Regions from separate parts of the Homo sapiens genome. Here region 1 is linked to region 2. The links come from fine-mapping of genetic effects on gene expression. A gene starts in region 2. The other region holds a variant in brackets. All regions are shown on one strand. Distances are between the middles of the regions.

Region 1 (3,010 bases), 23 kb before region 2:
TCTGAAACATGGGAAGAAGGGTGGCAGCCGCCTCCTATGGCCGGGACAGCCCTCTGTAGACTCTGTGCAGGGGGTACCTGCTGGGTGGGGCTCACCCGAGACACCGATGTCGGACAGGACGGCTTTCTTGCGGTCCTTGACGCTGCTGATCTGCGGGAAGTACACGTCCAGGGCCAGGTACAGCAGGCAGGTGAGGAAGGCGAGCACGCCCACGGCCACGCCATAGCTGCAGGCGTTGGGGTTGCGGTTGTAGATGCAGAACTCCTCCCCCTCGGAGGCGCTGTTGAGGTAGCCCTCGTTCACGATGGAGCCGAACACCACTATGGAGAACAGCTGTCGGGGGTGGGGCCACACCTTAGACCTGGGCAGACCCCTGCCTCACACCACCCAGGGGACGGGGAGGCTGCCACCCTCGCCTGCTGCCTGGCCCTCCGTGAGCTACAAGACCCGGGTTAAGCAGGCATTTCAGAGGGGGATCCCCAGAGAGGGAGGGTAACTTATGTGGGTCACATAGCACCAGGTGGGGGTCAATCACTTCCTTCCTCAGCCACAGGCACTGAGGACTCTCTGACCATAGATGTGGCCCCTTCCAACACCCCTCAGCCAGGTCCTAAAGGTCTTCCTGGGCCCTGACACCAAGATATCCTGGGACTGGACCGACTCTCAAAGAACAAGGAGCCACAGGCCCTCCTGGGCTGTGGACCTGCCCAGCCCCCACCCCCAGGCTGACTCCTCCAGATGCTGGCATGTGCCGGGCCCCATCTTGTGTTCTCCTTCCCTCTGCAGAGCTGTGGGCTGGTCTGGGGTCTCAGGCCCCTACCCAGGCCTGGCAAGTAGATGGAGTGATGAATGAAAAAATAACAGTGGGCTGGGGGTGGTGGCTCATGCCTGTAATCCCAGCACTTTGGGAGGCCAAGGTAGGAGGATCACTTGAGCTCAGCAGTTGGAGACCAGCCTGGGCAACATGGCAAAACCCCGCCCCTACTAAAAAATAAAAAAATTACCCAGGTATGGTGGTGCGTGCCTGTAGTCTCAGGTACCAGGGAAGATGAGGGGGAGGATCTCTTGAGCCCAGGAGGTGGAGGTTGTAGTGAACCGTGATCATGCCACTGCACTCCAGCCTGGGTGACAGAGAGAGGCTCTGTCTCAAAAAAACAAAACAAAGCAAAACAAAAAACTCTCGGGCCAGGCGTGGTCGCTCACGCCTGTAATCCCAGCACTTTGGGAGGCAGAGGCGGGTGGATCACGAGGTCAGGAGTTTGAGACCAGCCTGGCCAACATGGTGAAACCCCGTCTTTACTAAAATACAAAAATTAGCTGGGCATGGTGGCGGATGCCTGTAATCCCAGCTACTCGGGAGGCTGAGGCAGGAGAATCACTTGAACCTGGGAGGTGGAGGTTGCAGTGAGCCAAGATTAAGCCACTGCACTCTAGCCTGGGCAACAGAGCAAGACACTCTCAAAAAAAAAAAAATCTATCTATGTGTGTGTGTGTGTGTGTGTGTGTGTGTATTAAATAGAAAATAACAATAGACACAATCCTGCCAGATACAGGGCAC[C/A]CTGCATGATCCCAAGGGTATATTACACATGCTATCTCACTGACCCCACTACAGGATATGGCAAGAAGTGATGGGATATCACTTCTGGGAGTAAGTGACAAAGGATTTCTGCCTCCATCTTGCTCGTCCTCTTCTCCCCCACTCCCTGGTTGCTCTGATGAAAGCTGTTGTGTTTTGGACTACCCTTTGGAAAGACTGCATGGCAAGGAACTGAGGGTCTTTAGCCAACTGCCCACAGGGAACTGAGCCCCTCAGTCCAACACCCACAAGTAATTGAATCCTGCCAATACCATGTCAGTGAGCTTAAGAATGGATCCACCCAGGCCAGGCACAGTGGCTCACGCCTGTAATCCCAGCACTTTGGGAGGCCGAGGTGGGTGGATCACCTGAGGTCAGGAGTTCGGGACCAGCCTAGCCAACATGGAGAAACCCTGTCTCTACTAAAAATACAAAAAGTAGCCAGGTGTGGTAGCACATGCCTGTCATCCAGCAACTTGGGAGGCTGAGGCAGGAGAATTGCTTGAGCCCAGGAGAACTGTTTGCTGGGCCTGGGCGGAGGTTGCAGTGAGCCGAGATTGTGCTATTGCATTCCAGCCTGGGTGACAGAGAGAAACTCCGTCTCAAAAAAAAAAAAAAAAAAAAAAAAAAAAAAGAGCTGGGCGTGGTGCATGGTGGCTCATGCCTATAATCCCAGCACTTTGGGAGGCTGAGGTGAGCAAATCACGAGGTCAGGAGATCAAGACCATCCTGGTTAACATGGTGAAATCCTGTCTCTACTAAAAATACAAAACATTAGCTGGGTGTGGTGGCACGTGCCTGTGGTCCCAGCTACTTTGGAGGCTGAAGCAGGAGAATCGCTTGAACCCAGGAGGTGGAGGTTGCAGTGTGCCAAGATCAACCCCACTGCACTCCAGCTTAGGCAACAGAGTGAGACTCCGTCTCAAAAAAAAAAAAAAAAAAAAAAAAAGAATGGATCTACCCTCAGTTGAGCCTTCAGATGAAACCACAGCCCTACCTGATGCTGTGATTATAGCCTTGTGAGAGACCCTGAGGCAGTGGCACCAAGCTTAGCAGATTCCTCACCCACAGAAACTGTCAGATAACAAATATTTCTTGTTATAAGCCTTATGTTGTAGGGCAATTTGTTGTGCAGCAATAGCTTGCCAATACATCCTGCACCATCAGCATTTTGCAGATAAGACAGTTAAGGCTCAGCTATTGTTAACACACCCAAAGTCACACAACTGGTCAGTGACAGAACCTGGCTTCAAACCCAGGGTACCTGACTCTAAAGTTCACGCTTTTTGGCTGGGCATGGTGTCTCACGTGTGTAATCCCAGCACTTTAGGAGGCTGAGAAAGGAGGATCACTTGAGTCCAGGAGTTCAAGACCAGCCTCAGCCTCCTGAGTAGCCGGGACTATAGGCGTTTGCCACGATACCTGGTTAATTTT
Region 2 (2,739 bases):
CCAAGGAAAGGAGGAAGCTTGGGCACCCTGAGGTCACAGCTGGCCTTGGGGTAGCCCCTGGGGTCCCTGACAGTCTAGCCCATTCCTAGTCTAAGCCCACAAGGAACGGGCCCCAGGCCTGCAGAGGCCAGAACCTCGAGTGGGAGTTTCTGGGATACAGCCAGCCAAACCCAGGGAGCCCCAGAAACCCCCTCTCCAGACCCCAGCAGGGCTTCTTTCCATGAGGTGCCACTCAAGGCACCTGAACCCCTCCCTCTGTGCTCACTGTCTCTGACCCATCCTCTCCCTGACCACCCGTCTGAACAAGAGCCCACTCAGCCCTCTGCACTGAGGACCCTGCCCCCCAGCTAGGCTGGAGGCCACCCTGGCCTCTTCACTGTGGGAGCAGACCTTTCTCCCAGACACCCGCCTTGGGCATCCAGGTGCATGCTGAGTGGGAGGGGTGTTACCGGTTCATGAAATGTCAGAGCCCAAGGGGGCCTCAAGAAGGCTCCGCCCACCTTGTCTATAAATTGGGAAACTGAGGCATGAGAGAGGAGATGACACTCCCCACCTCGGAATTGAAGTCCTCATTTCTCGAGAACATTTCCTGGGTGGCTCCCAGCCCAAGGTCACGCAGAGAAGGAGAGGCAGTTCCCGGGTGGAAGAGAGGTACTCAGTTCCCGACTCATCGCTCCACACGGGCCGGGCTAGGCAATACGAACCCGGTTCCCGGCCCTCTCCTCCTCCAACGTCCATCGCAGGCGCGGCATGCACCCCACCGAGATGGTCCACGCCCTGATCCACCCCCCAAAAAAGGCCACCTTAAACCCTGGCTCCGTCCCCACGGTCCCCAGTCCGCCCTGGCGGCCGCGCACAATCCGAGCCTTTCGCGGCATAGCCGCGGCCTGGAGGTCACAGCAATCGGGGCGGGAAGGGGGGCGCACGAACCGGGGGCCCCAGGAAACCAGGGCTCCGGGAGCCGGAGCGGCGTCTCCCGCGAGCACCAGGGATCCCGCCCGCCCCGGGCCCGGGAAGGAGGAGCGGCGGCAGCGGGCCCCGCAGGCAGGACAGCTCCTCGCCCGCCGCCGCGCCGCCGCCGGGGGCCCGTTGGGGTCGGGGTCGGGGTCGGTCCGGGCGCGCCGCCTTTGCTCACACCCCCACCACCCCGGCCTGGCAGAGCCGTCGGCCAGTCCGTCCTTACCCAAGACACGACGCGCAGGATGGTGTGCGGCTGCCGGACCAGGGTGTAGGGGTCGAAGGCGCCCCCGGCTTTGCCCGCTCCGTACGCACCCCCTTCCATCGTGGCTGCACCCGCGCGGTGCCCCCCGCTCGGCGCGCGCCGCCGGCCCGTGCGCGTGCGCGGCGCCCCCGCCCCCTCCCCTGCGCGCGCGGCCGGCGGCCCAGGGCTCCCGCGAGGGGGCGTCGTGCGCGGCGGGCGCAGCTCGCGGGGCGCGGGCGGGGGGCTGGGCAGCGCGCGACCTCGGGCGCGGGGGCGCGCGTGCTGCGGCCCGGGGCTCAGGGCGCGCTCGCAGCCAGTGCGGTGACCTCTTTGCAAAGTGTTTGGGGGAGGGCGGTGCGTGCACAGCAAGTGTGGGCCGTGTCCCTGCCCCGCATCCCCGGTCCCCTGCCCCGGTCGCAGCCCCTCTGAGCCGTCGGCTCTGCTGAAACCATCTTCACGCTTGATTTGTTTGGCTGTTTCCTGCCACTTTGTCGGCCCCAAATATAATGAGAGGGCAGGAGCTGTGTTCGTCCTTCTTAGAGGGTGCTTGGTACGCAGTAGGCGCCGCATGAATATTTCTCGAATGAATGAACCACGAGTGAATGACCCTCTCTTACAGCCCTCCAGAGCAGCCCCCACCTCCCAGGACCACCCTTCCCCTGCCTCTTACGATGACGTCATGTGTGTCCCTGTGCCCGCGCACCCTCCCACCCCCAGCCTGGAGGGGCCTGGCACAGAGGCGGCGGCTGAGACTTCCTCTTCCCCATCCCCTCCTACCCCAGAACGTTGCCCCTTTCCTGAATCTAGCAATTAATTACGCAATCATTTGTTCATGGCCTCTTCTGCTGCTAGTCTGTGAGCTCCCGAGGCCCAGGTGTTGTCTAACTTATTCAATGCCTTACCCAAGGGCCTAGCATACAGTAGGTGCTCAGTAAACAGAGCCTAGTCCCCATCACCCCATCACAGCTTGGGCTAGACCTCCAGGTTTCATGGAAACGGAGGCTAGATGGAGGAGTGCTCCCTGCAGGGGAAGGGCCACCTTCCAGGGCTGGCTCTCCTGCTGCCCTGTAGCTCTATGGCCTCTCTATGTCTGCAGTCACCTTCACTGGTTCCAGGAGCAGGTTGGATGAGGATATGGGTGGAGGCTTTTGCTTCTCTGGTATCCTGCCATTCTGTGATGACAGGACACAACATCTGTGTGGAGGAAATGTGTGCTGGGCCTGAGGGTGCTCCTTATAAAAATTACATAGTCAATGTCCATCTTAGGCTCAGCTGATTGTTTAGTCTCTACCAGGCCTTGTGCTAAGGGCTTTACATACATTTTCACATTTAATCCAGCACACTTATAAGGTGTCTACTATGACTATATAAAACTTTTAGAAGAAAGCACAAGAGAAGGCCGGGCGCAGTGGTTCACGCCTGTAATCCCAGCACCTTGGGAGGCCAAGGTGGATGGATCACAAGGTCAAGTGATTGAGACCATCCTGGCCAACATGGTGAACCCGGTCTCTACTAAAAATACAAAAATTAGCCGGGCG

Evidence for each region. PIP is the estimated chance that this variant, and not a neighbour inherited with it, causes the effect. A credible set is the group of variants that fine-mapping cannot tell apart.
Region 1: its variant is the best candidate, but not a certain one, in a credible set for the expression of SYNGR1 in monocytes (Fairfax 2014, PIP 0.57).

What each region holds. Positions count from the first base shown.
Region 1 is chr22:39,371,639-39,374,648 of GRCh38, reverse strand. It overlaps SYNGR1 (synaptogyrin 1), which reads right to left. Exons shown (of 4, transcript NM_004711.5): 2 at 96-333. Among named protein-coding and RNA genes, the nearest start is that of SYNGR1, 23 kb to the right of the region's middle. RefSeq lists an enhancer at 220-735. The variant C/A (reference allele first, on the strand shown) is at 1,559.
Region 2 is chr22:39,348,554-39,351,292 of GRCh38, reverse strand. It overlaps SYNGR1 (synaptogyrin 1), which reads right to left and starts at 1,302. Exons shown (of 4, transcript NM_004711.5): 1 at 1,184-1,302. The coding sequence starts at 1,282. RefSeq lists a silencer at 1,096-1,255.